4 separate regions of the Homo sapiens genome follow, and all the other regions are linked to region 1. The links come from fine-mapping of genetic effects on gene expression. A gene starts in region 1. Each other region holds a variant in brackets. All regions are shown on one strand. Distances are between the middles of the regions. Region 1 holds the start of CKAP2 (cytoskeleton associated protein 2). Region 2 holds the start of CNMD (chondromodulin). Region 3 overlaps LINC00345 (long intergenic non-protein coding RNA 345). Region 4 overlaps LINC00345 (long intergenic non-protein coding RNA 345).

Evidence for each region. PIP is the estimated chance that this variant, and not a neighbour inherited with it, causes the effect.
Region 2: its variant is fine-mapped to the expression of CKAP2 in prefrontal cortex (GTEx, PIP 0.95).
Region 3: its variant is fine-mapped to the expression of CKAP2 in skeletal muscle (GTEx, PIP 0.93).
Region 4: its variant is fine-mapped to the expression of CKAP2 in whole blood (TOPMed, PIP above 0.99).

What each region holds. Positions count from the first base shown.
Region 1 is chr13:52,451,978-52,460,084 of GRCh38, forward strand. It overlaps CKAP2 (cytoskeleton associated protein 2), which reads left to right and starts at 3,501. Exons shown (of 9, transcript NM_018204.5): 1 at 3,501-3,649; 2 at 4,546-4,630. The coding sequence starts at 3,580. CKAP2-DT (CKAP2 divergent transcript) reads right to left here and starts at 3,369. Exons shown (of 1, transcript NR_185890.1): 1 at 2,798-3,369. RefSeq lists enhancers at 2,652-2,831, 3,122-3,201.
Region 2 is chr13:52,737,264-52,745,370 of GRCh38, forward strand. CNMD (chondromodulin) reads right to left here and starts at 2,557. Exons shown (of 7, transcript NM_007015.3): 1 at 2,367-2,557; 2 at 1,768-1,908. The coding sequence starts at 2,438. RefSeq lists an enhancer at 127-628. The variant G/A (reference allele first, on the strand shown) is at 3,766.
Region 3 is chr13:52,568,545-52,576,651 of GRCh38, forward strand. The region is part of intron 2 of LINC00345 (long intergenic non-protein coding RNA 345); the gene reads right to left. It also overlaps the pseudogene TPTE2P3. Among named protein-coding and RNA genes, the nearest start is that of LINC00345, 28 kb to the right of the region's middle. RefSeq lists an enhancer at 1,350-1,644 and a silencer at 1,574-1,633. The variant G/A (reference allele first, on the strand shown) is at 4,432.
Region 4 is chr13:52,556,501-52,564,607 of GRCh38, forward strand. The region is part of intron 2 of LINC00345 (long intergenic non-protein coding RNA 345); the gene reads right to left. It also overlaps the pseudogene TPTE2P3. Among named protein-coding and RNA genes, the nearest start is that of LINC00345, 40 kb to the right of the region's middle. The variant G/T (reference allele first, on the strand shown) is at 3,623.

The DNA of each region.
Region 1 (8,107 bases):
TATTTTTCTCTTTAGGATTATTTTCTTACAGTGTCTTCCTAAAATAGAATGACTGCTTTAAAGGTTGTGAACACATTTTAGAGAGCCTACCACTTATTGGGGTCTTAACTAAGGCTGCGTGCCCACGTGGGCAGAGGGGCACAGGGGCAGAGGGACAGAGGGCAGGCTTGCTCTCTGCCCCCAGGGCTCCACATTTCCCCCAGTCGTGGAGTCAGTGGTCTGTGGCTAGGCATTAAAAGAAAGGAAAGGCTCTTTCCAATGAGTATAAGCCATCTCTCCCCCGAAATGAATTGCTACTTTTACCGTGTTCCAAAATCCTGTGTGTATTTTGGTCTATTTCTAAACAGTGTCTTCTGTATTTCATATCTTTCAATTTCCATCATGACCATATACCCAATAACCAAAAGTTCTTTGAAAACATTTGATTTGCTGTAATATGCTATCAATATATATCACAATTTACCATCATTGCCTGATTTTTGAGCATTTGATTGTTTACCAACTTTTTAGTCTTTTTTAATTGAAAGTAATGTGACCTAAGCATCCTAATCAGATGTGGAACTGTGCAGTTATGCCTGGGCTTTGCAATTATCAACATGTTAGGCAGTGAGGACATTTGCAAGGTATGTTTTCTGCCCTTGAGGGATGTACAGTCTGTAGGACACAAATAGAAGCCTGGCATATGATAGCTGCTGGGATAGACAACCGTATAAGGGTTTCCTGTATCCAGGCTGGAGCAAGGAGAAACGTCATGTGGCTTATATATGGCAATAAATGAATAGACAAAAGGTTTTAATTTTTATGAAGTTCAGTGTATTTTTTTCTTTCATAGTTCATGGAATTTGCCTATTTAAGAAATCTTTTTTCCACAAACCAGATATTGATACTGATTATGAAATCTTTGCCTAACACAAAGTCACTAAGATTTTCTCCTATAATTTCTTCTAGAAGCTTCATAGTTTTGGTTCTTACATTTAGGTCTATGCTTTTTTTTTTTGAGACAGAGTCTCACTCTGCCGCCCAGGCTGGAGTGCAATGGCACAATCTCGGCTCACTGCAACCACTGACTCCTGGGTTCAAGCGATTCTCCTGCCTCAGCCTCCCGAGTAGCTGGGATTACAGGTGCCTGCCACCACGCCTGGCTAACTTTTGTATATTTTGTAGAGACAGGGTTTCACCATGTTGGCAAAGCTGGTCTTGAACTCCTGACCTCAGGTGATCCACCCGCCTTGGCCTCCCAAAGTGCTGGGATTACGGGCATGAGCCACCACGCCCAGCCATCCCCAGGATGTTTTTGCCAGGACCTCCCACCTTCTGAATCAGATGGTTCCTTTCAGTCCCAATCCTACTGGACCTCTGTAGTGCCCAACACTGTGGTCCATTACCTCTTTCTTCAGCTTCTCTCTTCCCCAGACTTTGTGACCCCATTGTGTCCCCATTGTCCTCCTAACTTTCAGATTGTCCTTCCCTGTTCTCTCACAGGCACTTTACCTTCTTCACATGACCACAGGAGGAACGACTAACACTAATTAATCATCAGTACTCCAGGTGCCTGCAGTTTCATGGTCAGCTGTGTTGGCAAAGAACTGTTCTGAAAGGAAATCTTTTTTGTTTTGTTTTTTTTGTTTGTTTTTTGGATCTTTTAGAAAAAGGTCTGCTTTCTCTGCAATAATTGTGTAGCAGTAATATTAAAAAGTGTCTCAAAAATAGACATATCATTGGAGTGGGTGAGTCTGGAGATTAGAGGAGAATTGCCATTTTGAAAAACCTAGCAGTTTGGCAGGTTTTCCTATTCATCTCAGCCTACTGAGATCTCCATGGTATCCTTTGAGTCAATTTCTTTTTTTACCATGCCCACTTATAAAAAATTATTGAGGTTCACATAACATAAAATTAATCATTTTAAAGTGAACAACTCAATGGCATTAATACATTTACAATGTCACCCAACCACTACCTCTAATTCCAAAACATTTCACTTACTTCAAGGTAATGAAACCCTTGTCCATTAAACTGTCTCCCAATTCTCCCCCTACCCTCAGCCTCTGGCAACTACTATTCTGAGTTATTTCACTATGGATGTATCTATTTTAGATCTTTCATATAAATGGAATCATACCATATGTAACTTTTCATATATTACTTCTTTTACTTAGCATAATGTTTTGGAGGTTTTTGAGTCACTTATTAACGCTGTATTTTGTTCTCACTTAATAGAAATCCCTGGTTGCCCCACCTGTCTGATGAAACTTTAGTAAATAATCAACAATAATGACAGACGTATTTAAACAGCAAGTTATATCTTAAGGATGGTGATGGACAATGTTAAACTAAAACTGGGACATTTCATCAAGTAAAAAACTACACAAAATCTCAAACCAAATTCCTCATTAGCAAGACGCTACCATAAGATGTCTGAAGAAAAAAGCAGGCAGAAGTGGGAAAAACTGACCACAGCCGAGGGCCAGCTGTGGAGGCCCTCAGACCTGGGAAGGGTAAACGGGGAAATCACATCCTCCCGTCTGTGTGCCCGGAGCACCTAAAACCTGGCTGAAAGAGTCCAGTCCAGCCTTACTGCAGTGATCAGGCAAGAAATGTAAACCCAGTGCTTGAAACCAGGCAGGTGCAGTCCAGACTCGCCCTCACTTCCCCACTGCCACTCTTAAAACCTTCTAGCCCTGACTTGTTTCGTTCTGTCATGTGGATTGAGTGTTTGTGTGGGTTTTATGAAGGTGGTATTTTTAGATGAGAAAAACGAAGATTATGGCGGCACACTTAACCACACAAACACAAAACGTCTGTAACAAATGCTATTTTATCTTCAAAGGAGAATTATATATAACCTTGAGGAGGGGATGAGGTTTATCTTCATTTTTTTCTGTTTCTCCTCCTCTCCTCCCTTTTTTGCATTTGATAATTGCTTAGAATAAAGGTATGGAAAGTAGATCCCAATTTCAGTTCCCCTTCACACGCTGTGCAAACGTGGACAAACAACCTCTGAACCTGTCACCTCTCAGTGGAAAAAGTGGTGATAACGTCCCACCTCAGAATTGATGCTCAAAATGAAGCAGTATTTGTGAAACGAAAATACACACGCTCGTGGTACGCCAGATCGGTGTTTACGTCCTCGTCAGTGAACGCGTCGATGTTTAATAAGAAGGGCAGCCAATCAACACTTTTCTTGTCTTTTTCTCGTCTGCCTTCCTCCAAGGACTGTGAGGGTCTCAAGATGTGTCCCATCTCGGTTGTTTGTCAACCTAGTCCTGCTATGTCGTGGGGACTGAGCAGGCCGACTCCTCCCCCATCGCACGTCCAGGATGAAGAGCGCTGTTTAGGTTTGAAACCTGCAGACTCAGTCCCAACCGAACTGGGCAGACACCAGACCGGCCCCGGCAACTGCAGTCCAGGCTCCGCCTCCCTACGCCCATTGGCTTATTCAATTCACGCAGGAACCAATGGGCGGAGACGGCAGCCGCGCCGTCTGACGGCTTAGCCGCGGTGCAGACTGCGGCGGCGGTGGTCTGAGGAAGTTCTATCTTGGCGCTAAAGCGGAGACGCATCCCCCGACCCGAGGCTACGATGAGCACACCGGCCGTGCCCCAGGACCTGCAGCTGCCCCCGAGTCAGAGGGCGCAGTCCGCATTCAAAGGTGAAGGCCGCGGTGGCGGTGGCGGTGGCGGTGGCGGTGGCGGTGGCGGGCGCGGGCCCGGCGGTCGGGGCTCGGGGCCGCGCTGGCGCGCTTCACCTCTCCCCCGCTCTGTGAGATCCCTGAACGCGGCGTCGGCCTCGCCCTGCCTCATTCTTGGCCTTGTGGAACGGATCATAAAAACAGGAACCGCTGCGTGGTGTTACTGTGCGGTCGCTGCTGGCTGGGATGGGCCCTCCTAAGAAGGAATCCGTTAGGCGAGGGGAAACGCGCGGGCCTCAGGCCGGGGTCGGTGTCGGAGACCCTGGGTCCGCTTGGGGGCGGGGCTGCACAGGTTCAGGGACCGACTGCGCCTGCGCTGGGTCCTCCGCCTCTTAGGTCCCTAGCGAATTTCTGCAGGGCTGGGGTCGCATCATGTGTTATTTCCAATTTCACAGCTTCTCCTTCGACTTTATGGAAACCGAGGGTTGGTTGGGTCTTCAAAACTAATATTGTTATTCCCTTATTCTACACACGGGAAAGCAGAAGAAAGTAATTCTCATCTAACCCAGTTCTGGTAAATTAGAACTTTCGAGTCTAGTGCCTCACTTCTACCATTTAGTTTCTTAAAGCTTGGCTAGCAGGAGCTGTATGTAGAAAATGATGTTCTCCAGATTTTTCACAGGGAGTAGAGAATGTGATTCTTATGCAGAGGGGTTTTGGGGACCTGTTGTGGTAACAGTCTCTTCTAAGGTGATTTCTCAAAGGCAATATTGAATTGGAGAATTTTCTGTTATATAGATGTGACCTCAGGTGGAACCAGCTTTGGAAGTAAACTCTTCATTTAGTCAACAAGATTTATTTGCCGTTATCGATGTTTTAACTAATATTGACTTGTAGCTCTTACCTTTGTTATCTAGAGCAAAGAAGACAAAAACTCAAGGAACATCTGTTGAGAAGAAAAACGCTTTTTGCATACAAGCAGGAAAATGAGATGTTATCCAGGTAAGGTCAAGTTTATTTCTTTTCACTTCTGTAAAATTGTATCAGATCTGTCCAATGAAAATGTAAAGTAAGCCATATCTGTAATTTTAAATTTTCTAGTAGCCACATTTAGAAAAACTGCTTACATATTATTTTACGTCTTTTTGTGGTACAACGTCTTTAAAATCTGGTGTCTATTTTACAGTTACAGGACATTTCCATTTGGTCTATCCACATTTCAAGCACTCAGTAGCCACATTGGCTAGTGGCTACTTTATTGGATGGTGCAGCATTAGATCATCGTTTTATTAATTTTTTTTTTTTTGAGACAGAGTCTCACTCTGTTGCCAGGTTGGAGTGCAGTAGCGTGATCTTGGCTCACTGCAGCCTCCACCTTCTGGGTTCAAGTGAATCTCCTGCCTCAGCTTCCCAAATACCTGGGACTGACTACAGGCAAGTGCCACCATTCCCTGCTAATTTTTGTATTTTAAACAGAGACCGGGTTTCACTATGTTGGCCGGGCTGGTCTTGGACTCCTGACCTTGAGATCCGCCCACCTCAGCCTCTGAAAGTGCTGTGATTACAAGGATGAGCCACCGCGCCCGGCCTAGATTATCGTTTTCTACGTAAATTAATTCACAGTCTAAGAGAAAAAAACAATTATAAAGCAAAGTATGTGCATAGACTAGATTATCAACTTACTGTTTACACCACACAAAGGTCAGTCTTTCTATTATTTAGCAAAGCTTTTTACTCAGTGTATGGGGGAGTTCATCAGGGAAGGGTTGGGTGGCCCTCCCAAATGCTTAGAGATTACTAGTTGTAGTCTCAACCCTCCACAGAAATATCTTTATTATTTTGTTAAAATATCTTAGATAGTACATAGCTGTAGCAAAAACAAAAACCCATGAAAGTAGATGAAGCAGAAAGGCAAAAGGTCCCCTCACTCTCTAGGGATAACCAGTAATAACATCCTTACAGGCTTAGGCTGGGTGCTGTGGCTTACACCTGTAATCCCAGCACTTTAGGAGGCTGAGGTGGGCAGATCACGAGGTCAGGAGATCAAGACCAGCCTGGCTAACACAGTGAAACCCCGTCTCTACTAAAAATACAAAAAATTAGCCAGGCATGGTGGTGGGTGCTTGTAATCCCAGCTACTGGGGAGGCTGAGGCAGGAGAATCGCTTGAACCTGGGAGATGGAGGTTGCAGTGAGCCGAGATCGTGCCATTGCACTCCAGCCTGGGTGACAGAGCGAGACTCCGTCTCAAAAAAAAAAAAAATTGTCTCAGGTAAACAAAATTGTATATACCACCCACACACATATTCAGAGAGTGGAAATGATAACGCAAATGGGATAAAAATTTTAACAATAGGTGGATCCTGGGTAAAGAGTGTACAGATATTCTTTGACCTGTTTATATTTTTGCAACTTTGTGTAAGTTTGGCATTCTAAAATTTTAAAAATAATTTCTAACTTTATATTAATAAGTTGCTTTAGTTTGGAATAAACAGTTTATCCTTCACAAATAAATCTTTTATTTCTTTGTTTAAGACAAAAAGGTGATCCTAGGTTTTTTATTTGAATAAGTAAATGAATGGTGATAACCGTATACTGAAATAGGAAGCCTGAAGGAGGAGCTGGGGAATTAGGAGTTCTGTTTTGACTATGTTTGAGGTACCAACCAGACATCCAAGCAGATATGCCAAATAATTGTGTGTCTGAAGTTCAGGGGAGGGGTTGGGGCTGGAAGCATAAACTCAGGAATTGATTAGTATACAGATGATATTTACTTAAAAACCTTAGGATGGAATGAAATTACTAGGGAATAAGTAGAGATAATATGGATTCAGACAGTGACTCTCAACCACTTATTTAAATAAAGAATCCAACAAGGTCAGGGGTTTATAATACTCTTAATAGGAAGAAAAGAAAATTCTAAAACGCTTCATGTGGCTTAAGTACTACATTTATTCCTTTCAGAAAACAGATGTTGGCTGGGTGCAGTGGCTCATGCCTGTAATCCCAGCACTTTGGGAGGCTGAGGCGGGTGTATCACTTGAGGTCAAGAGTTCTAGACCAGCCTGGCCAACATGGTGAAACCCCGTCTCTACTAAAAATATAAAAATTAGCCGGGTGTGGTGTCAGGCGCCTGTAATTCCGGGGAGGGCCGAGGCAGAAGAATCGCTTGAACCTGGGAGGCGGAGGTTGCAGTGAGCCAAGATCAGGCCATCGCACTCCAGCCTGGGTGACAAGAGCGAGACTTTGTCTCAAAAAAAAAAAAAAGGAAAACAGATGTCAATTTAAATGTTATCACCTCAGCAGTGAATCATTAAATAAGACAACCAACCTGTGTTGCAGCTTTTCAGAATTAAACAGTTATATTTTACAATCTCTAAAGTATAGATATCCTAAGACTCATTTCCGATAACCCTTCTGAGGGCAGTTTTATAATAAGACAGAATAGGATTAAGTCTCCCCACTGGACAGGTGAGTAAGATGGGTTCTTCTTGTCATCCTGAGTTTTGTTTTGTTAGCTGGCAGTTAGCTACTAAGATACCCTGTTAAGTGGCACATTTTGATCTTCCTTCACCATTGTTCAAAATGTATAGTACAGGTTGTGTCAAAGTTCTGTTCCTTCTCCAAGCTGACAGAACAAATAGATATGAAAGGCAATGTAAGCAAAATTATTAACTACTAAATTATGTCAAATGTAAAATATATATATATATATTTTGTTTTGTTTTGTTTTTTTGAGACGGAGCCTTGCTCTGTCGCCTAGGCTATAGTGCAGTGGCGCGATCTCAGCTCACTGCAACCTCTGCCTCGTGGGTTCAAGCGATTCTCCTGCCTCAGCCTCCAGGGTAGCTGGGATTACAAGCATTTGCCACCATGCCTGGCCAATATTTTTGATTTTAGTAGAGACAGGGTTTCGCCGTGTTGGCCAGGCTGGTCTCAAACTCCTGACCTGAGGTGATCTGCCCACCTTCTCTACCCAGAGTGCTAGGATTACAGGTGTGACCCACTGTTCCTGGCCTCATTTTTTTTTTCAGAGAATGAGAGATCACGCATTTTAATGTGATCTCTGAACTTAGGATCTGTCTTAAAATCAATGGCATGTCTAATTGACCGTATTTTTTCCTATCGTTATAGTACACAAAATTGTTAAAATCACTTGCTAAGAGATGCTCACAGTCTGCCTTAGCCAGTTTATAGCTGTAAAAATAAGTTAAGTCAGTTTCTTGAGGAGGGATTTTCTTTGCAATACCGCCTAGAAACTAACGTTCTTTTTTTTGAGAGATGATCTCATTCTGTGTCACTCAGCCTCTAGTGCAGTGACGGGATCTTGGCCCACTGCCTCAACTCCCAGGCTCAAGCAGTCCTCCACCCCAGCCTCCCAAGTAGCTGGGACTATGGCACCCACCACCACACCCAACTAATTTTTTATTTTTTTGTAGAGATGGGGTTTTGCCGTGTTGCCCAGGCTGCTCTCGAACTC
Region 2 (8,107 bases), 290 kb after region 1:
TATTTAGTATTTTGTGATTTGTTTTTCATACTTAAGTCATATGGATCAGGGAGAAAAAAACTATCATGATTTTCTTCATTCTCCTGTCTGTATAGGATATAGCAATAATTTTGATTGTTGACAATAAAATGTGATTCACTATTCCTCTGAATTCTTAGCATTTAATACTGCTCTCCTGAACCAGACAACCAACCATCTTGCAGTAAAGTAAAATATATGAAAAAAGGGAGCTGTGCTTATTCAGTATGATTGTTTAATCTCTCTTTTTAGAAGCCTGTCAGTTAGTGATGTTTACCTTGAATAATTAAATGACAAATGGTATTCATTTTAAAATATATCATGTCCAGAATCTTTACCAAAAAAAAGCATAGCTATTGTTATCCCCCATTGACCTATACCATTGAGGCTTTGTTATTTAAAAGATAGCATTTACATTCTAAAACCACAGAATTTCCCAAAGAGATGACAATCTAAACCCTGCTATTAATGGAGATGTAGATATTGAAATCATTCTCTTATTCACATTTGCTGTTTCAAACATGAGCATCTGGCCCAGCTTCTATATTTAAAATACAAATACATTAAGGCACTTTTCAAATACCCACAAAATACAGTGCAATTCTGATCTTACAAATCGATGCTTGTAAATTTGATATAGTCTCTAAAACAGACTCGGTGCTAAATGGCATGCTTATCTACATTAGACATTTGAGTTAAAAATACAAATTATGCAGTGACTGCAGAAGACGTGATGTGTAAAATGGTTGAATTGCTTTCAGCACCATTTTCTGTAAGTACTGGAATTCGTTCATGCTTTGCATTTCATGGTAGGAGAGAGGAAAAAACAGCAATCACCAATCCTCTGAGGATAGTGATTATGAAAGAGCCCTTTGTGTGTGCCCTGGAGATGGAATTCTTTTCCATTAGTTGAAATAAGCTTATACCAGACCTGGCAGTGGTCATCAAGATAAAATGCCCCCTTTTACATAGGTGAACACTTTCAGAGTATTTAGAGAACACACTGGAGCTCTGCCCAGTCAACTTAGAAACAGTCTTTATACTCCTCGAGAGCCGTGGAGCTTTAAAATAAATAGTTGCATACAAAGAAAGTAGGACAGCAGTTAGTAAAACACCTACTATTAAACCACATGTGATGACTAGGCCAGAATTAATTGTTAAAGAGATTTTCCACCTTTAAGGAAGTTAGACGTTTTGTTTGTTTGTTTGTTTTTTGTTTTTGTTTTCCAGAGAGAGAAGGGAATGTTCATGGCTAGGTCACAAAAAAACCTTCTGAAAGGCAAAAATTCCTTCCCAATGGGTCTGAATATGGGTCTGAATATTCCTCCACTATCTTTGTCCTGGATTTTAAACCCACAGCCTTTCTTAGCAGGGACAGGCCTTAGAGATCGTCCAGTTCCATTTTTTCCCTTCAGGACGAGTACACTGAGGCCAAAAGGTGACGTGCCTTCCCCACGGTCGCGCCACTGCTTAGTGGGAGATGAGCCGAGAACGGCCTTTCTCGGACCGTCCACTACATTCTCCCCTACTCTACGCTTCAATCTTCTCCCGTGAAACCTTCACTTGCTTTTCTACAACGTTGACCTAAGGCGGAAAGCCGCGTGCCAGAGTGGGATGGGAGAGGGGAGCTCACGCTGGGCCCGAGGGGCCCGCCGGCAGCCGCGCGCCCCTCGCCGGCCCGCGCTCGGGCTCCCCCTAGGGGCACCATGGGCGACACGGGGGTCCCCGCGCGCCGCCCTCTGGACTTACGTGACTGTCGCTCCCCTTCCAGAAGTAGAAGGCCCCGATGGCCCCAAAGAGCAGCAGCACAGCTCCCGAAATGAGGACCACGGCTCCCACCTTGAGCAGCCGCGCGGGGCTGGAGGGCTTCACCGTCAGCGTAGCGTACGCCTGCGGGCCGGGGCGGGAGAGGGACCGTCGCGTTTGTGCCGCCAGCACCTGCGGCCCCCAGCGCACCCGGGCCCCACGCGGTAGCCCCCAGGGAGTGGGGAGTCGGGCGGGAAACAGCTCGCCCGGGCTCCTACGGGTGCCCCTTTCGCCGCGCTCCCTCCCGAGGGTCCTTTGCAGTCGGGCGTGGAAGTGGGATGAGCAAACCCCGCAGCACAGGGCCTTCGCCCCAGGACCTGCACCCTCTACCGGCCACGGGACGTCCCTCCGCACCCGCCTGTGGATGCCGTGACCCCTGCACACTCATACGCGTGGGGCGACATCCCACCCACACATTTGGGACCCAAATTTATCCCCCCGCCAACACACCCATTCGGTGGCACGCACCCCTGAGTCCGAACTGTGGAACCTGATACTCACACAACCCAGGCCCTGCGTGTGGAATCCCTGGCGGTACTCACCGGGGGGCTGCAGAATTCCACGTCATCAGGTCCCACCAGGGCAATGGGAACTTTGTCGGAGTTCTCTGTCATGTTTGCGGCGGGAGGAGTGAGGCACTTGGAGACTCCCTGGGCACCCTGGGATCTGTCCCGCTGCCCCGACGTGCAGGGCATTTCAACGCCGCGCGCACACACGGTGCACGGTCCCGCCTGGGCCAGCCCAGCGGTCCCCACCCCTTCCAGCGCCTCACCTCTCTCCTCCCTTCTCTCTCCCGCCGCGGGAAGCTCGTCCTGCACTCCCGGATGCCCCCTTTCCTCCTCACTCTATCCTGTCTACTGGCCCCCCAAACAGCATCCCGGTGACTCTGAATGTGTGGGGGTGGTTGCATCCCTCAGAGCGGGATGCTGAATCCTGGGACCCAAAGAAATACTCAAGTGCCAGAGCAATTAGCCATGCACCGGAGGATGTCTTAGAATGTCAGCGGGCTCTGCTGTGACAACTGGCTGGAGGCCATTTCCTGCAGGGTCTTTGTAGGTGTGTGTTGGGGTGGGGGTGGGGGGAAGATGGCTCATGGAAGGTGAAGGAGAAGACAACAGAGTGGTGCAGGTGGACAGGGGACACTGGCCTAAGAGTGTAAGGGTTAGGCCACCTTCTCACTGGCCTGGCATTGCTGGATGGCCCCTGGGACTGGAAAACAGAGCAGGGTCTTAGGGATGGCTCCTTGCCACCAGTTTTTCTAGGGTCTGGGTACAACTGCAGCAAAAGTGAGAGCTAAGCAGAGCAGGGCTGGAGGGAAGGAGTTGGGGAGACCAGAATAAAAGTGCATGCTGGTTGGTTGAATAAATTAAATAAGTGCAAACAAAAGCAACAATGGCAAAGCACACACACACACACACACACACACACAGAGTACTGATGTATCCAAAGGAATAACACAAATGTGTGTGTGTGTGTGTGTGTGTGTGTGTATGTATGTATGTATATAAAATTTTCACTTTTGGAAATGCCATCTTCCAGTTCCAGGATACATGGTACTTCATTTGGATCCAGGCTTCCTTAAATTGCGTTCGATTCTAGCTTTGTGCAGAGCTCTCTGGTGAGGTGTAAGTGAGGAGCACTAGTGCATGAGAGGGATTGAGGCTTCCCCAAAGGGCAGCGGGAGATTGCATGTGCAGGACTGCAGAAGGAGAAAGTGTTGAAGAATCATCCAAGACATGTGATGAAGAATGAGGTGACAAGCATGATGACCTGGGGCTGGGAAGGAGGGGAGAAGTGGAGGAGACCACTTTCACAGAAGAATCGATAGGACTTGGCAATTCCTGGGCTGTGGGAACTGAGTTTTCAGACCTAGGAGGATTGGGAGAGTGATAGGAACCCTAGGGAAGTGAAAAAATTGGAAGAAACAGTTTTAGACATGTT[G/A]AGCTTGATGTGGGGATGAAAAGTAAAAGAGCCAAGGAAATGTCCTGAGCCTGCATTGGAATCAGCTATGGAAACAGCTGTCTGCACATCACACTAGACTTAAGGTGCTTGGAAAAAACTCCAGCAAGATCTCCAGCCAGGGCTCATCCCTGGGGCACTGCTGAGGCAGAGTTCAAAGACCTCTTTTCACAAGGGCATTCTTCACAGGAATTTTGGTGAAGGAATAAGAGAAGTAACTGTCAGAGAGGTGGGAGATGGTACAATATAAAGTAGTACATGTAATTTTAAAGGCACATTCAAGAAGGGTGGGTCAGCAGTGTCAAATGCTGAAAAAAAATGAGCACAGAGAAAGGCCTTGGAAGGGCACAACCAAGAGGCCATGGGAACCAGCGAGAGAGTAGTTCCATTTGCTTCCCTGGGCACAGAAGACACATTGCAAAGGGTTACAGAGTGATTAAAAATATTTGCAACTTATACCACAGACAAGGAACTAGTTTTCTTATATAGTGTTTTCCTAGGAAAACCAAAAGACCAAAAATGTAGTAGAAAAAATGGCAAAGAATGGAAACAGAGAGTTGGTGAAGCAAGAAGTAGAAATTTCTCTTAAATGTAAGAAGAATGAACAACAGCATTATTTTGCCTTTTTTTTTTTTTTTTTTTTTTTTTTTTTGAGACAGAGTCTTGCTCTATCGCCCAGGCTGGAGTGCAGTGGTGCGATTTTGGCTCACTGCAACCTCCACCTCCCAGGTTCAAGTGGTTCTCCTGCCTCAGCCTCCCAAGTGGCTGGTATTACAGGCGCCAGCCACCATGCCTGACTAATTTTTCTATTTTTAATAGAGGCAGGGTTTCACCACGTTCGCCAGGCTGGTCTCGAACTCCTGACATCAAGTGATCCGCCCACCTTGACCTTCCAAAATGCTGGGATTACAGGCATGAGCCACCACGCCTGGCCACAACTGCATTCATACAAGGAAATGCAAATTAAAAGTAGACTGGTTCACCTATGAGACTGGAAAAACATAAAAACGCTTGTTAAAACAATCTGTTGAAAAATATGAGGGGCAGTGAATTTATGGACTACTGTAGTGGGTGAATTGGTACAACTTCTATGGAGAACAATTTAATTCCAAAATGCAAAATGCAGTTTCATTTCTATGGATTTATCCTACAGATGCACTCACAAGGGTGGAAAAATCCTGCAGGTGCAACGATGCTCACTGCAGCATGTTTGTTAGAACAAAGCACTAGTAATATACTCAATGTCCAGAGTAGACAATTTATGATCCATTCTCACCGTGGGGGTTTGGCAGCCCTTTAAAAGAATGAGGCAGCTTTGGATGTAGTGATGTAGATAGAACACTCTCTAAGATACTTCAAGTGAAAAAAGCAAAAGGTAGAAAATGCGTAGAAATGCTTCCATTTGTATAAAGAAATACAAACAAGAATAAATGTAAGTATATGCTTTCTGGAAAGATAAGATGCTGGTAGTGGGGGTTGCCTCTGAGGAAAATGTGAAGCTTGGGGAGACCAGTAGAAAGAAGATGCTTAACTGTGAACCTTCTGAAATGTTTTGAATTCTATATTGTGAACACGCATTAGCTATTCAGGAATTGAGTGAATAAAGCACTAAATAACAGTGAGTAGGTGGGGAGGAAGTGAATGCTACAAATGGAGACAATTCTTTTAACAACTTTCAACTTGAGGGGAAGAAGGATGAATGTAAGGAAGTTTTAGATGAGGGGAGTTAGAGGATCAAGGAAGGTACCACCTTCCCTTGATGAACCTTGAGAAGGAGAGAAGGACTGGAGGGAGTGAGTGGTGAGTGGATACTTTGGGGCCAAACAGACATTGAAGAGAGGGTGAGGAATCAGGGGAAATGCAAGACCTTGCCTCATTCATACATTTTTAACACATAATATACAGAAAGTAGCTGACCAGGGCGTGAGGGGTGAGGAGTGGGTATGGAGATCAGTTGCCTCCTCTGAGCACATTCTCCTAAAGTGGCATATTTTCAACAATTTTAAGGTAGTGTGTTCACATGATGATGGTTATAGATAATGAAAAGGCAGTAGAAAAAGCAGTAAGGGAGCAAGACTGGGAGGCTCATTGCTGTGGTTTGAATGTGTTTCTCAAAATTCATGTGCTGGAAACTGAATTCCCAATGCAAGTGTTGAGAGGTGGACCTTTAAGAGATGATTAGGTCATGAGGGTTCTGCCTTTGTGAAAGGATCAATGCCACTGTTGCAGGAGTGGGGTAGTTATCATGAGAGTGGGTTCCTGATAAAAGGATGAGTTTGGCTCCCTTTCCCTTTCTCACATGGGCATGTGTTCTCTCATTCTTCCACCTTCTGCCACAAAGGCCCTCACCAGGTACAGCACCTTACTCTTGGACTTCCCAGCCTCCAGAACCATAAGCCAAATAAGCTTGGTTTATAAATTAACCGGCCTGTGGTATTCTGTTTTAGCAGCACAAAATGAACTTAGACACTCGTGAAGAATGAAATCAAAGGGGTGCCCCCTTTCACAGGCTTGCTTTCTTCTACCCACTCTGCTGCTGGGCCCACCTGTAGGCCCATTCCCTGGAAGTTATAACCCAACTCTGCTCTCAGGCACTGTGCCAGGTCTGGGTACACAGTAATGAGCACATGAGACATGGCCCCTGCTCTTGATGAGCTTATAGAATAGTGGAAAACATGGTCATTAAGCAGGTAATCACAAAATATGATGTCATTGCATTTGTAACACACAGTATGAGGGAAAAACATAGGCTACACTAAGATCATATAACATCTAATTTACCCTGAGTGGGGAATGGGGAAAGCACCTGAAGAAGTGTCATTTAGGTTGAAAACCGAGAGAAGGGGAATTTTCCAGGTGGAGATGGGTGAAAGGGTGTGGGAAATGTGGAGGGACAGCATGTTAGAAGGCCATGAAATGGTAGAGTTTGGCATTGGAAAAAGGGAAAGCTAGATCTTAAAGAATAAAAGAAAGAATGGCCAGAGATGACACTACAGAGAGAGACAGTTACCTTGGCTAATAAAGTCTTCTAGGCTATGTTAAGAATTTTGAAAAATTTCCTCTCAGTATCAGGAAGTCATTGAGGGGTTTAAAGCAGTGGAATGGTGTGATCTGGTTTGCATTTTAAAAATATCATTTTGGCCACTGTGGGGCAGAATAATCAAACTGGAGTGGGCAAAGTAGAAGGGGTAGTTTTTTTTTTTTTAAATTTTTAATTTTTATTTTTTTGAGACAGAGTCTCTCTCTATTGCCTAGGCTGGAGTACAGTGGCATGATCTCGGCTCACTGTAACCTCTGCCTCTCGGGTTCAAGCAATTATCCTGCCTCAGCCTCCCGAGTAGCTGGGATTACAGGCGCCCGCCACCACACCCAGCTAATTTTTGTATTTTTAGTAGAGACAGGGTTTCACCATGTTGGCCATGCTGGTCTCAAACTCCTAACATCAGGTAATCTGCCCGCCTTTGCCTCCCAAAATGCTGGGATTACAGGAGTGAGCCACTGCGCCTGACCTTATTTTAATTTTTTAAAGCCAGGGTCTGGCTCTGTTGCCCAGGCTGGAGTGTAGAGACTCACTGTAACCTTGAACTCCTGAGCTCAAGTTTTCCTCCTGCCTCAGCTTCCTGAGTAGCTACAACTACAGGCATGCACCATGCCTGATTAATTAATATACACATGTATTTATTTTGTAAAGGCAGTGTCTCGTGACGTTGCCCAGACTAGTCTTGAACTGCTGGCCTCAATCGATCCTCCTCCCTTGGCCTTTCAAAGTGCTAGGATTACAGGCATGAGCCAATGAACCTGGCCCAGAGGCAGACTTTTTGGGAAGCTCTTGCAGTGGTCCAGGCAAGATATGATGTTGGTCTGAACTAGAATAATTGTAAGTGATATAGATGGGAAGAAATATTAATCCGAAGGAGTCCATTAGGATTTCAGATCCATGCTGGAGGTAGAATCAACACGCTCTGGAGACTGGCTGAGTGTGAGGTGAGTGAGGGAGGAAGTCAGGATGACCTCATGTATCAAGCACAAACAACTGAGTAGATGTAGAAAGCACCGGATGAGTTTTGGACATGTTAAGTTGAAGAGCTGTGAAAATTCAAGTGCAGATGTTGTACTTGATAGTGCCAGTAAATAAGCCGAGAAGACCATCTGCTGAGACAAAGAGGCTGGAGGAGCCAGCAGGGCTTAGGGAGTGTGGGAGAAGTTGATATCAGTTGTATGAGGAATACAAGAAAGAATTTATAAGAGCAGCGACCATTTGGGGCTGGAGAACATGAAGGAGCCAAGACTCCCCATCAGCACTGAACGAACAGAGCAGGTTAGA
Region 3 (8,107 bases), 120 kb after region 1:
TTTAAAGCCTGTTTTATCTGTTTTAGGAATAGTGATCCCTGCTCTTTTTGGTGTTTTGTTTGTGTGAGAGATCTTTCTCCAACCCTTTACGTTGAACCTGTTGGTGTTGTTACATGTGAGATGGTGTCTTGAAGACAGCAGACAGATGGGTTTTGTTTTTTTATCCAACTTGCCACTCTGTGACTTTTACGTGGTGTGTTTAGACTATTTACATTCAAGGTTAATATTGACGTGAGCTTTTCACCCTATCATGACATTGTTAGGTGGTTGCTTTATACTTTCTGTTGTATTGTTGTTTTATAGGCTCTGTGAGCTGTGTACTTAAGTGTGCTTTTATGGTAGCAGGTATCATTCTTTTATTTCCATGTTTAGAACTCCCTTAGGGATCTCTTGTAAGACTGGTCTAGTTTTAATGAATTCTCATGGCACTTGCTTCTCTGGAAAAAAAGATCTTTATTTGTCCTTCGCTCATGAAGCTTAGTTTGGCAGGATGCTCTTGATTAGAATTTATTTTCTTTAAGAATTCTGAAAATACACCTTCCCAATCTCTCCTGATTTTTAAGGTTTCTGCTGAGACGTCTGCTGTTATCCTGATAGGGCTCCTTTTGTATGTGATCTGGCCTTAGGATTTTTTCTTTAACGTTGACCTTGGACTGTTTGGTATATGCCTTGGTAATGTCCACTTTTTTATAGTATCTCGCAGGTGTTCTCTGGCTTTATTGTATCTAGATGTCTACCTTTCTAGCAAGATTCAGGAAATTTTCTTGAATGATTGCATCAAATATGTTTTCCAGGTTGTTTTCTTTTTTTCCTTGTCTCTAGGGAATGCCAGTAATTTGTAGGTTTGGTCACTTCACATAACCTATTTCTCAAAGACGTTCCTCACTTTTTAAAAATAGTTTTTCTTTATTTTTGTCTGACTGCATTAGTTCAAAAGACCAGTCTTCAGGCTCTGAAATTATGTCCTCTACTTGGTCCAGTTTATTGATAAATCTTTCCATTGTATTTTGAAATTCCTTAAGTGAGTTTTTTAATTCCGGAAGTTCTGATTGATTTCTTTTTAAGATGTTTATCTCTTCCTTCATTTGCTGAATTGATTTAGAAGTTTCCTTTTGTTGATTTCAACCTTGAATCTCATTGAGCTTCCCTGGAATCCATGCTTTGAATTCTTTATTGTCATTTCTGAGTTTTCATTTTGGTAGAAAGCATTGCCAGAGAGCTAGTGTGATCCTTTGGTGGTATCACTACATGCAGGTTTTTCATGGTGCCAGAATTCTTGTACTGGTTCTTCTCATCTGGAGATGCTAGCACTTCTAATTTTTGTAATTGTTTTTATGTGGGTAGGATTTTTTCTTTATCTTTTCTTTCCTATATCATTATTATTATTATTATTATTATTATTATTATTATTATTATTATTCTTTCCCTTTCCCTCCTCCTTAGGTGATGTGACTTTAGAGCAATGCTAGGTAGGTCTTTTGGCCTTGCTTCTATATGCACTTCTATCAGCAGGTTTTATATTGGGTATGTGGTTTGACCTACAAGCCAGTAGATGGCGGCGATGGGTAAGAGCTGGCTGTGGCCAGTGGTGCTGGCTATATACTTGCTGTTTGTTTATTGGGAAGAGCTCTCTGTTGCCTTAGGCAATGAGCTGATTCCTGGAGTACACATTAATCTGAGCTCCCTCCTAAACCCTAGGGGAACGGGAGTTAGGTGGGGGTGTGGGAGGAAGATGGGTGGAGCCAGATGGGGAAGGTTCCCCAGTGTTGTCCTGCTCTCAGTCCAGGTTTGGGAAAATGCCTGCAGCTTTTCCTTGTGTCCTTTCCTCACAAAGTCTCCAAGTCTCTCGTTAAATTAGCTCCAGGACTTGGGAGAAACAGTGCCCCTCCTCGGTCCGGGTTGCTTGGATCCCCAGTGGAAAGGTAAGACAGAGGGATGCTGTCTGCCTCTCTCACATACTGAGGCTTCACTCGCTTTTATCAGTCGAATGTTGTCACAAGAGCTGTTTGCCTGCGTTGTCCTCCCAAGGATCTGGGGTGTCCTTCATAATTCCAGGGAGTTGTCGTTTTCTTTCTTGAATTAAAGTTCACAGAGTTGATCTTTATGTACTATCTTGCTATTTCCAAATGGCTGAGGCATGCTAAAAGCCTGTAATCTGCCGTCTTGGAAAAAAATCCTTGCATTCTTAAGAGAAATGGCACTTGGTATTGATACGTGGTATTTCTACACTGCTGAATTCACTTTGAAAAAATATATATATTTTTATATCTACATTTATATGTCAGACTGGTATAAAGTAATCGTCTACTGTATTTATGCAGTTTTGGAACCAGCTATTTTAGTGTTACTAAATGAGTTGGGAATTTTTCTTTCTTACTGTTACCCAAAGGAATTTATATAAGACATGAATTATTGCTTTCGAATAGATTTAGTAAAAACCTCATCTTGTTCTTTCGTGGAGAGGTAGTTGAGAAATATTTTTACCGTAAATGTAATTTATTTTCCACCTGTGGGGCAGAGGTTGCAGTGAGCTGAGATCGTGCCAGTGCACTGCAGCCTGGGTGACACAGCGAGACTGTCCCAAAAAAAAAGAAAGAAAATCAACTTAAAATGAACTCCTGGAATATTTCTGAGTGTATTTTTATACCAAGCATGTTCCTTGAACTAATTTTTCTTTTCTTTTCTAGGAAGAACCGGAACTATGGTTTGTGCCTGCCTGATTGCCAGTGAAATATTTTTAACTGCAGAGGTATGAAAGATGTTACTACAAACTTTGTCTTAGGATGACTGAGTTTGCTAGTTCTGAAACATCACTGGTAGGATGTTAAGATGATTATTTTAGTCATGGTGCTTAGTGAAATTGTAATTGGAGAAGCGGTTGTTAAAAAGTCTGTTTTTGATACTTCCTTGTTTAACATGCACTGGTTAGTAGCTGGCTTAAGAATCTCTTTGGGCCAGGACTAGAGTGAGGTCAATGAGGCGCAGAATTTAAGAGAATGCTAAAAATTGCAATAATTAAAATAAATGATTTTTCATGCAATATTTAAAAAATAAAAATTAATGCAAAAAAACCATGAGGTATACAATATTAACATTTTAAATAATGACAAGACCTGATGGGGCAGGATTAAGGTGAGGGGAGTAAAGCCATGTTACACAGATACAAAAAACATTCAGTAATCGCAATGGTTCCCTCACCTCACCTGGCCCTGCTGTTCTTCCTTCCTCATGAGAATAGTATCAAGCTTAATTAGATAAATTCTCCAAAGGGCCTTGGCCATCCTCACACCTCTTAGGTAGATAAAAGGCAACATTTCACAACTCAAAGCCTCTCCTGCATGTAAATACCTCTGCTTAGTCAACACATGTGGAGTCTGTGGCCTCTAGAAATTTCTGATAAGACAAGGTGGGATGTTTCCACCTACAGCAGTGTTCTCAGTCATTTTTCTTTGCCATTTTCTTGCTGAGATGCTACCATTTCCAGCAGCTCCGCTTGAGTTGTTTGGCCTACAGTCTAGGGAAGAAGTGGTGGTTCTGCACAATGCCCAGCACTCTAATTCCACCACCTTTGGTTTTTCTAATTTGAGACACACAGATTTTGAAAATGGATGTTCTAGGATGGTGTTTTTCAAGCTATGGATCATGATGTATCAGTGAGTTGTAAAATAAAGTTACTGGGTTGTGACTAACATCTCTTAAAAATAAAATGGAATCGGCCAGGTGCGGTGGCTGATGCCTGTAATCCCAGCACTTCAGGAGGCTGAGGCGGATGGATCACCTGAGGTCAGGAGTTTGAGACCAGCCTGACCAACATGGAGAAACCCTGTCTCTACTAAAAATACAAAATTAGCTGGGCATTGTGGTGCATGCCTGTAATCCCAGCTACTTGAGAGGCTGAGGCAGAAGAATCGCTTGAACCCAGGAGGTGGAGGTTGTGGTGAGCTGAGACCGGGCCATAGCACTCCAGCCTGGGCAGTAAGAGTGAAACTCCGTCTCAAAAAAAAAAAACAAAAAAAAACTAAAGCTAAAACTAAATAAAATGGAATAGAGCAGAATAGAAAATCTGAAAAGGTTTAAGTATTGGTGTGTGTGTGTGTGTACTTCTCCGAGGTTTATTAATGTGGATTGCAACTTAAAAAATGAAAAGTTTGAAAGCCACTGATACAGAGCCCTAGACTGAAAACCAGAGACTTGTATTTCAGGCCTGTGCTGCTTCTAACTGGCTGCAGCATCTCCATGGCAGATTGTGTAGTTTTCTTTTGGTCTCAGTCTTCTCATTTGTAAGATGGAAAGAAGGGTTGGACCAGATGATTTCTAAGGTCTTTCCAGCTCTAAACTTTTATGTCTTTACGAAACCTTGAATGAGAGAAGTCTTTGATGTGACTTTGTTAATTTTGGTAATTTGGGTAGCCTTTGCCAAAAGACCACTGC[G/A]GCTAGGCGCGGTGGCTCATGCTTGTAATCTCAGCACTTTGGGAGGCTAAGGCAGGCGGATCTCTTGAGTCAGGAGTTCGAGACCAGCCTGGCCAACATGGCAAAGCCCCCATCTCTACTAAAAATACAAAAAATTAGCCAGGTGTGGTGGTACACGCCTGTAGTCTCAGCTACTCAGGATGCTGAGGCAAGATAATCGCTTGAACTCGCGAGGCAGAGGTTGCAGTGAGGTGAGATTCTGCCACTGCACTCCAGTGTGCGTGACAGAGCGAGACTCCATAAAAAAAAAAAAAATCACTGACTTTAGGAAAGAAGGTGGTTTTAGAAAGACTAAGGTACCTAATATAGAAAAGGAAAGAGTGCAGATGAACCATGGTTCCTTTTTTGTAGGAAAGATTGTACTATTTTGGAGAACGGCGAACAGATAAAACCAATGGCACTAAATATCAGGGAGTAGAAACTCCTTCTCAGGTAAGTTTTCGTTTTAAGAAAGGGAGCTTTTGTAGGGGAGTGGGTTAAGATTGCCATCTGTTATTTGGTTTCATTTTAGACTCTTCTCCTTTGGTGATCAGTCAGCAGCATTAGGGCACCCTGCGACAGGCCTTGGTCCCTCCCTGATGCTAAGGGTCATGCTTCAGGTGCCACCCACACGTTGGGGGGTCTGGCTTCTCCTCAGAGCATCCTGCTTTCTATTCTATACTGGTTATTGTTTACGGAGCTCAGGAGTTGATTATTTTCCCAAAGCAGGAAAGTCCAATACCTAAGGCTCCAGGACCCTGAAGTTTATCTAAAATCACCAGCCTTTGATTTCAATGTAAAAAAGATCTAAGTCTTTCACAGATCCTTATTAGGGCAATTCAACCCTTGCAGAACATCACAAAGACTGTTTTTGGGTGACTCCCGTGTGTGTGTGTGTGTGTGTGTGTGTGTGTGTGTGTGTGTGTGTGGTGGGGGAGGTGTATTTTAAAAGAGAAAGAAAAGGGGAAATAAACTTTTCAAAAACCCTTTTATATACCAGACAGTACTGCACTTTTACATATCTCATTGAAAACCCATAACACCTATATGAAACATATGCTGTTACTCTGTTTTTTCTTTTAAAAATAATTTCGTTATGGAAAACTTTAATCATATACAAAAGTCCAGAGAATCATACAATATATCTCCATGTAGTCATCACTTCGCTGCAACAATCATTTCAGCCTGCAACTGGCCACGTTTCATCCATACTTTTCCCACTCCACTCACACCCCCAACCCCACTCTCCACTCTTGCTTTCCCCAAACCTGGATTATTTGGAAGGAAATTTCAGTCATCAGATCATTTTATCCCACAAGTATTTTAGTATGACATCTAAGTACTCTTAAAACAACAACAAAAAACCCTTAATAACTTTTATCATATCTGAAATATTACACCTTAAAAATCCTTAATATCAAATTTCTAGTCCATGTTTGTTTCCAAAATTGTCTTAAAATCTTTGAAAATTTAGTTTGTTTCAGTCAGAATTCAAACAACATCCACACATTTCATTTGGTCGCTATGTCTCCTAAGTCTCTTTTAGTTCATAGATTTCTTGCCATTTTTTATTGCTTGTAATTTGTTTACTGCAGAAACCAGAATGTTTATCGTATAGCATTTACAACATTCTAGACTTTGCTGAACCATTCTAAGAGTTTTACATTCACTATCTCATTTAATATTCTCAGTAACTCTATGAGTAGGCACTACTATGATTCTCATCTTATAAATTAGAAAATTGAGGTTCAGAGAAATTAACTTTTGAACCAAGGACTGAAATCTAGATGTCAGACTCTGAAGCCCATGCTGTGCACAGCTTCTCATTTATATTGCCTTTTCTATATTGCCCCTCAAACCGAAGTGAGAGTGGGTTGGGAATTCTCAAATAGATTTGGATGTGGCTGTAAATGAGTTTTTCTTTAGGTGGTGGGAACTGAATAAGTACTCTTGGCCCTGTTATAAGAACACTAACTACTGTCCCCGTTTAGTTTGGGCAAAAGAACTCAGCCTTATCCACTGATACTTTTCTCCCACACCCAAGCCAAAAACAAAACCAGACAAAGAACAGTCATAGACCCTAAGCGAAAAGGAATGTGTGGATTTACTGAAGTGCAGCCCTACTCATGCCATTTCCATGCTCAAAATCCAGAGTATGTCCCCACTGCCAGTAGCAATAAACTAAATGTTTCAACCTGGCACTCAAGATCCACAGTTTGACTTTTCCAACCTTTTCTTCCACTATGTGCATGCACACATCCCACACTCTAACACATTTAGACTGTGTGCTGTTTCCCAGCCCATGGACACTTGATTCCCTCGTGCCATTTCTCATGCCCCTTTTCCTAGAGTCCCTTTCCCTTCCCAGCCTGAAGTAGTCTCTTGCTTTTTCAGTTCCTAAAGCCCTTTGTGTTTCTCTTAGGGATGATATCACTTTGCATTGTTCTCTAGCTATTTGAAGTGGTGACTTCTGTTTCCCCTTTAAAGGCAAGGCCCATGGCTTACCCATCTTTCCACCCTTTCCTCATAATATCTTCTTTGTTTGTAGTGAGTACCTCCTATGGGTTGGTTGTATGAATTTCTACTACCAGTCCATGTTGTTTTAAGTTGTAGTAGAAAGAAGCATGGGAGCAAAAGCAGCTTGAGGGCCCTGGCAGGTTACAGCCTTTAGGGGAAGGTGGAGAATCTGGTGGCAGGAGCCAAGGAGATGTTAGATAGAGCTCCTTCAGCAACTCACCCCACACGTCTCCCCATCCCCATCTCTTCTGTAGTCATGCATAGTTTCCCGAACTTTAGTCCAGAACTAGCACACCAAAGGCTGCAACTGAATCTCTTCTGATTGACTGAGAAGGCAACACAGGGTCTCAGCTGCACATTTGAGAGATGTGTTGGCAAGACCTCAGGACAGAGTGCCCTCTGTGTCTGGTGGTGATTCTCGGATACCATCACATTCTGATCCTGCATTGTGGGCCATTCTACTGACTACATCTACTCCTAAGTTAAGAACTTTCATGAGCCTTCCTCATGACTGGCCCTTTCTAAAGGAAAGTATGGCAGTTTGTTACTTCTATGAACATTTCTCAATGGGTAAGATAGAGTCCATGAACTTATGAGTACTTCTTCTTTTTTTTTTTTTTGGAGACAGAATCTGTCTGTCACCCAGACTGGAGTGCAGTGGTGCAGTCTCAGCTCACTGCAACCTCGACCTCCTGGGTTCAAGCAATTCTCCTGCCTCAGACTCCCAAGTAGCTGGGATTACAGGTGCCCACCACCACGCATGGCTAATTTTTGTAGCTTTAGTAGAGACGGGGTTTCACCCTGTTGGCCAGGCTGGTCTCGAACCCCTGACCTCAAGTGATCTGCCCACCTCGGCCTCCCAAAGTGCTGAGATTACAGGTGTGAGCCACCAGCGCAGCCAACTTTTGAGTTCTGAACCAGTTGATTCAGTACCAGAGCTCTTCAACTCCTTGAAGATAGATTCAAGGAGAGCCACTGTGAACAGCTTGCCCTAGGAAAAGGACAAGGCTAAGGGAATTCCGGGGCTTCCTTGTGAAAACAGAATTGGGGAAATGGAAAGTGAAGAAATCCTAGCTGTCAGGAACAAGAGAAGAATGACAGGAAACCTGCTACTGAGATATGGAGGTATTCCTCTTGAGTT
Region 4 (8,107 bases), 100 kb after region 1:
CCAGTTTTTACTATGATAAATAATGCTGCTTTTTTTTTTTTTTTTTTTAGACGGAGTCTCACTCTGTCACCCAGGCTGGAGTGCAGTGGTATGATCTCGCGCACTGCAACCTCTGCCTCCCAGGTTCAAGTGATTTTCATCCCTCAGCCTCTGGAGTAGCTGGGATTACAGGCGCCTGCCACCATGCCTGGCTGTTTTGTATTTTTAGTAGAGACAGGGTTTCACCATGTTGGCCAGGCTGGTCTCGAACTGCTGACCTCAAGTGATCTGCCTACCTCGGCCTCCCAAAGAGCTGATATTACAGGGTGAGCCACTGCGCCTGGCCCAATAATGCTGCTTTTAAAAATACACGTTTCTTGTTGCATATGTGGCCATATTTTTGTTGAGTATGTACCTCAGACTAAAATGGTTCTGTCTTAAGGTAATGAATCTTGAACTTTATACTTGATAATGTCACCTGTTTCTAAAACAGTTGTACCAATTTTCACTCCACTGGTATCGCACACTCGAAGCATTCCATATCTTCCCCAGTACTTGCAATTCTGAGTATTTTGATTTTTAGCCATTGGGTGTTTGTGTGATGGCATATTATGGTGGTGTTCATTTGCATTTCTATAATTACTAATAAGATTGAAGAAGTTTTCTTAAGATTATTAAGTATTTGGATATCCTTTTTTGTAAAGTAACTGTTAAGTTTTCTTACCCATTTTTCTCCTGGATTATTTGTCTTTTTTTCTCTTGATTTGCAGTTTTTTATATATTCTGATTTCCATTCTGTTATTGGTCATATATGTATTTCAAGAAAACTTTTCTGCTCTGTGATTTGCCTTTTCTCTCTCTTAGGAGTATCTTTTGGTTAACAGAAGTTCTTAGTTGTATTACCATCATAGGTATTATGCTTTCTCTTTATAAAGTTTGTGTTTTTGTGTCCTGATTAAGAAAATTTTCCTTGAGTTTAAAGACATTCTACTACTATATTTTCTTCTAGATGGTTCATTCATTTAAAAATTGATTTATAGGTGTGGTGTGAGGAAGAGGTTAAGTTTCATCTTTTTCCATATATGGCTATCCAATTATTCCAGCACACTGGTTGAGAAGATTTTTATTTCTTTACTTCCCTGCAGAACATGAGTCTGCTTCTGACCTTTCTATTCTGTTCATTGATTTTTCATCTGTGTGCCAATAGCACAACCATCTTACTGTAGCTTTCTAATAGTCCTTATTTCCAGTCAAGTGAGGACAATCATCTTTTTCTTCATAATTGTTTGTGTATTTTAGGCCGTCTACATTTCCATATAAATTTGGGAATCAAACAAAAGGCAGCAGAAACCTCTGCAGACTTAAATGTCCCTGTCTGACAGCTTTGAAGAGAGTAGTGGTTCTCCCAGCACGGAGTTTGAGATCTGAGAACGGACAGACTACCTCCTCAAGTGGGTCCCTGACCCCCGAGTAGCCTAACTGTGAGGCACCGCCCAGTAGGGGCAGACTGACACCTCACACGGCCGGGTACCCCTCTGAGACAAAGCTTCCAGCGGAATGATCAGGCAGCAACATTTGCTGCTCAGCAATATTTGTTGTTCTGCAGCCTCCGCTGCTGATACCCAGGCAAACAGGGTCCGGAGTGGACCTCCAGCAAACTCCAACAGACCTGCAGCTGAGGGTCCTGACTGTTAGAAGGAAAACTAACAAACAGAAAGGACATCCACACCAAAACCCCATCTGTACGTCACCATCATCAAAGACCAAAGGTAGATAAAACCACAAAGATGGGGAAAAAACAGCAGAAAAGCTGAAAATTCTAAAAATCAGAGCACCTCTCCCCCTCCAAAGGAACACAGCTCCTCGCCAGCAAAGGAACAAAGCTGGACGGAGAATGATTTCGAAGAATTGAGAGGAGAAGGCTTCAGACAATCAAACTTCTCCGAGCTAAAGGAGGAAGTTCAAACCCAATGCAGGGAAGCTAAAAACCTTGAAAGAAGATTAGACGAATGGCTGACTAGAGTAACCAGTGTAGAGAAGTTCATTCATCATACTGAATGGGCAAAAACTGGAAACATTCCCTTTGAAAACTGGCACAAGACAGGGATGCCCTCTCTCACCACTCCTATTCAACATAGTGTTGGAAGTTCTGGCCAGGGTGATCAGGCAGGAGAAAGAAATAAAGGGTATTCAATTAGGAAAAGAGGAAATCAAATTGTCCCTGTTTGCAGATGACTTGATTGTATATCTAGAAAACCCCATCATCTCAGCCCAAAATCTCCTTAAGCTGATAAGCAACTGCAGCAAAGTCTTGGGATACAAAATCAATGTGCAAAAATCACAAGCATTCTTATACACCAATAACAGACAAACAGAGAGCCAAATCATAAGTGAACTCCCATTCACGATTGCTTCAAAGAGAATAAAATACCTAGGAATCCAACTGACAAGGGATGTGAAGGACCTCTTCAAGGAGAACTACAAACCACTGCTCAACGAAATAAAAGAGGTTACAAACAAATGGAAGAACATTCCATGCTCATGGGTAGGAAGAATCAATATTGTGAAAATGGGCATACTGCCCAAGGTAATTTATAGATTCAATGCCATCCCCATCAAGCTACCAATGACTTTCTTCACAAAATTGGAAGAAACTACTTTAAAGTTCATATGGAACCAAAAAAGGGCCCGCATTGCCAAGTCAATCCTAAGCCAAAAGAAGAAAGCTGGAGGCATCACGCTACCTGACTTCAAACTATACTACGAGGCTACAGTAACCAAAACAGCATGGTACTGGTACCAAAACAGAGATATAGACATATAGAGATATGGAACAGAACAGAGCCCTCAGAAATAATACCACACATCTACAACCATCTGATTTTGACAAACCTGACAAAAACAAGAAATGGGGAAAGGATTCCCTATTTAAAAAATGGTGCTGGGAAATGGTGCTGGGAAAACTGGCTAGCCGTATGTAGAAAGCTGAAACTGGATCCCTTCCTTACACCTTATACAAAAATTAATTCAAGATGGATCAAAGACTTAAATGTTAGACCTAAAACCATAAAAACCCTAGAAGAAAACCTAGGCAATACCATTCAGGACATAGGCATGGGCAAGGACTTCATGTCTAAAACACCAAAAGCAATGGTAACAGAAGCCAAAATTGACAAATGGGATCTAATTAAACTAAAGAGCTTCTGCACAGCAAAAGAAACTACCATCAGAGTGAAGAGGCAACCTACAGAATGGGAGAAAATTTTTGCAATCTACTCATCTGACAAAGGGCTAATATCCAGAATCTACAAAGATCTCAATCAAATTTACAAGAAAAAAACAAACAACCCCATCAAAAAGTGGGTGAAGGATATGAACAGACACTTCTCAAAAGAAGACATTTATACATCCAACAGACACATGAAAAAATGCTCATCATCACTGGTCATCAGAGAAATACAAATCAAAACCACAATAAGATACCATCTCACACCAGTTAGAATGGCGATCATTAAAAAGTCAGGAAACAACAGGTGCTGGAGAGGATGTGGAGAAATAGGAACACTTTTACACTGTTGGTGGGACTGTAAACTAGTTCAACCATTGTGGAAGACAGTGTGGCGATTCCTCAAGGATCTAGAAC[G/T]AGAAATACCATTTGACCCAGCCATCCCATTACTGGGTATATACCCAAAGGATTATAAATCATGCTGTTATAAAGGCACATGCACACGCATGTTTATTGCAGCACTATTCACAATAGCAAAGACTTGGAACCAACCCAAATGTCCATCAATGACAGACTGGATTAAGAAAATGTGGCACATATACACCATGGAATACTATGCAGCTGTAAAAAAGGATGAGTTTGTGTCCTTTGTAAGGACATGGATGAAGCTGGAAACCATCATTCTCAGCAAACTATCGCAAGAACAAAAAACCAAACACCGCATGTTCTCATTCGTAGGTGGGAGTTGAACAGTGAGAACACTTGGACACAGGAAGGGGAACATCACACACCAGGGCCTGTTATGGGGTGGGGGGAGGGGGGAGGGAAAGCATTAGGAGATATACCTAATGTAAATGACGAGTTAATGGGTGCAGCACACCAACATGGCACATGTATACATATGTAACAAACCTGCACGTTGTGCACATGTACCCTAGAACTTAAAGTATAAAAAAAAAAAAAATTTGGGAGTCAGCTGGTCAAATACACACACCTGATAGAAATTTGTTTGGAATTGCGTTGAATCTATAGATTGGGGAGAATTGAATCTTTACAATATTGACCCATCCAACCCATGAAGAGAGATGTTCTCTCATTCAGTTAGGTTTCCTTCCATTTCTCTTTACAATGTTTTCTCATTTTCTGTGTAGAAAGCTTGCATATTTTTGATGAGATTTATTCCTAGATATTTGATATTTTGTGGTTATTTAAATGATATCCCTTTAAAATGTTTATTTTCTAAATGTTGTTGATTTAAATGCAGTTCATTTTATTCATTAATCTTGTATTTAGCAACTTGACTAAACTCACTTTTTGTTTGTTTGTTTGTTTGTGTGTTTTGAGATAGGGTTTCATTCTGTCACCCAGGCGGGAGTGCAGTGATGCGATCATGGCTCACTGCAGCTTCAACCTCCCTGGGCTCAGGGAATCCCTCCCACATCAGCCTCCCGAGTAGCTAGGACTGCAGGCAGGTGCCACCATGCCCAGCTAATTTTTTTATTTTTTTGTAGAAACGGGGTTTTGCCATGTTGCCCAGATTGGTCTCAAACTCCTGGGCTCAAGTGATCTGCCAGCCTCAGCCTCTGCCTCCTAAAATGCTAGGATTACAGGCCTGAGCCATTGTGCCCAGCCTAAACTCACTTATTAGTTCTACTAAATTATCTATAGATTCTTTTGGATTTTATAGTACACAGTTATATCATGTGAAAATAATACATTGTATTTTTTCCTTTTCAGTCATTTTCCCCCCTAGCACTGGCTAGAACCTTCAGTACAGTGTTGAATTAGAAGTGGCAACAGCAGCCATCAGTGTACACTTCTATTCTCAAAGGAAAAGCTTTCAGTGTCTCTCCAATTGCTTTACGAGCATGTGTGTGTGTGTGTGTGTGTGTGTGTGTGTGTGTGAGCTACCATTTATCAGATGAAGAAATTCCTTAGCCAGGCGCCATGGCTTTCGCCTGTAATCCCAGCACTTTGCGGGGCCCAGTGGGGCACATCATTTCAGACCAGCCTGGGCAACATGATGAAACCCCATCTCTACTAAAAAATAAAAAATTAACCAGGTGTGGTGGTGCATGCCTGTAATACCATCTACTCTAGAGGCTGAGGCACGAGAATTGCTTGAACTCAGGATGCAGAGATTGCAGTGAGCCAATATCACACCACTGCTCTCCAGCCTAGGTGACAGAGCGAGACATTGGCTCAACAAAAAAAAAAAGAAAGAAAAAGAAAAGAAAAAACAATGTCTTTAGTTTGCTGAGAGAGTTTTTTTTTTAATCATGAATGGATGTTGAATTTTTCCAGATTTTTCTGAATCTTTGAGATGATAATTTTTCCCCTTTATCTTATAAATAAATGTGGCTAATTACATGATTGATTAAGTGGTAAACCAACATATTTCTGGAATAAATGTGATTGAGTTGTGCTATACTATTTTATTAAATAATTATTAAACTTTTTTTTATTAAATTCCTGGGTTCTATTTGTTAATATTTGTTTAGGATTTTCAAATTCATGTCACCAGTGTGATTGGTTGTAATTTTCCTTTCTCATAGTTTTTTCAAATCTTGGCTTCATAAAATGAGTTAGATTTTATTTTCTCTTTTTTTATTCCCTCGATGAATTTATGCGTGCTGTTTTTTTTTTTCTTTTTAAGTGTACGGTGAAATTCACCAGTGAAGCTACATTTGTCTAGAGTTTTCTCTGGGGAGAAGTTTTTAAATTATCGCTCAGTTTCGTATATAGAATTCTCTCTAATTTTATTTCCTTAGCCTGTTTTGGTAGGTTATTGTTTTCCCAGCATTTGTCCATTTAATCTAAGTTTGCGAATGTCTTGGCATCAAATTATTCACAATATCATTTTACCATTTTAATGTCTACAGGGGCATTCCCTTTTTATTCCTTACATTATTTTCTTGGTGCCTTCTCCCTTTGTTTCTTTTGATTAGTCTCACCAGGGAATTATCAATTTTACTAGTCTTTTAAAAGTAACAAATGTGGCTGAGCGCGGTGGCTCATGCCTGTAATCCCAGCACTTTGGGAGGCCAAGGCGGGCGGATCACGAGGTCAGGACATCTAGACCATCCTGGCTAACACGGTGAAACCCCGTCTCTACTAAAAACACAAAAAATTAGCCGGGTGCGGTGGCGGGCGCCTGTAGTCCCAGCTACTCGGGAGGCTGAGGCAGGAGAATGGCATGAACCCGGGAGGCAGAGCTTGCAGTGAGCTGAGATCGCGTCACTGCATTCCAGCCTGGGTTACAGAGCGAGAGTCCATCTCAAAAATAAATAAATAAATAAATAAATAAAATAACAAATTTTTGGCCTTACTAATGGACTCTATTATTTACTTTTTATTTCATGAATTAGTATTATATTTAGTATTTTCTTTTGTATTCCATGGGTTAATTTGTTCTTTTCCTGACTTCTTGAGATGAATAATTCTTAGAGTGTCGACCACTCTGTTTTCTGTTTAGCATTTAAGGCTATACATTTTCTTCTAAGAGTTGCTTTAGCTTCGTCCCACAAGTTTTCATATGTAATATTTTCATTTTATTGGGTTCAAATTATTTTCCAATTTTCACTGTGCTTGGTGTTTTTTTTTTTTTTTGACCCGTGAGTTGTATAGAAGTATACTTCCTTATTTCCAAACATAGGAGACTTTTGCATTTATCTTTAAGTTTTTTATTTGTGAAGCCAGGCGCAGTGGTTCACGCCTGTAATCCCAGCAATTTGGCAGGCCGAGGAGGTGGTTTACCTGAGGTCAGGAGTTCGAGACCAGCCTGACCAACATGGAGAAACCTCGTCTCTACTAAAAGTACAAAAATTAGCCAGGTGTGGTGGCACATGCCTGTAATCACAGCTACTTGGGAGGCTGAGGCAGGAGAATCGCTTGAACCCGGGAGGCGGAGGTTGTAGTGAGCCAAGAACACACCATTGTACTCCAGCCTGGGCAACAAGAGCGAAACTCCATCTGAAAAAAAAAAAAAAGTTTTTTATTTCTGGTTGTATTGTGCTGTGGACACAGAACATACTATTTTTTTTTTCTTCCAAATTTGTGTAGACTTGGTTTATGGCCTAGAATTTGGTTGATATTGTTAAATGTTTTCTGTACACTTGAAAAAAACACGTATTATGCATTGTTGAGAACAATGTTCTATGTACGTGCATTTGTTAATTTATTTAACTCTTCTATATTCTTACTGACTTGTGTTTTGGTTTGATTGAATTTTGATAATTTTTTCCTTCTCACTCTCTCCCATTGCCTTGGAAGTTATATACTCCTTTTCTATTTTTTTAGTAATTACTGTAAAGATTTCAACCTGAATCCTTGATTTAGCTATTAATTTTTGTTTATGTTGAGCCTGCATCTAGAGATCTTCCTAAACTCTCTCAACTCTCTCGTTAGATTAATGAGTTATTCTATAGATTTACTGACTACACGGACTTACTACACTGGCTAGGCTCTGCAGTACATTGTTAAATGGAAGCAGTGAACAGAGGGCATTTTTGCTTAATTCCAGGCTTTAAAGAAAATGCTATCAATATTACATCATTAATATGATGTTCCTGGTAGGTGTTTTGGTAGATTCCCTTTGTTGAGTTAAAGAAGTGTCCTAGTTTTTATTAATTTTTAAAGTCACAGTTGTAGGTTGAATTTTAGTTAATGCTTTCTCTGCATTAATTGACATAATTGCAAGGTATGTCTACTTTAATCTGTGAATATGATAAATTACATTAATATAGATTTCTGATATAGGATGATTCTTTTTTGTTTGTTTGTTTGAGACGGAGTCTCGCCCTGTCGCCCAGGCTGGAGTGCAGTGGCGTGATCTCGGCTCACTGCAAGCTCCGCCTCCCGGGTTCACGCCATTCTCCTGCCTCAGCCTCCCGAGTAGCTGGG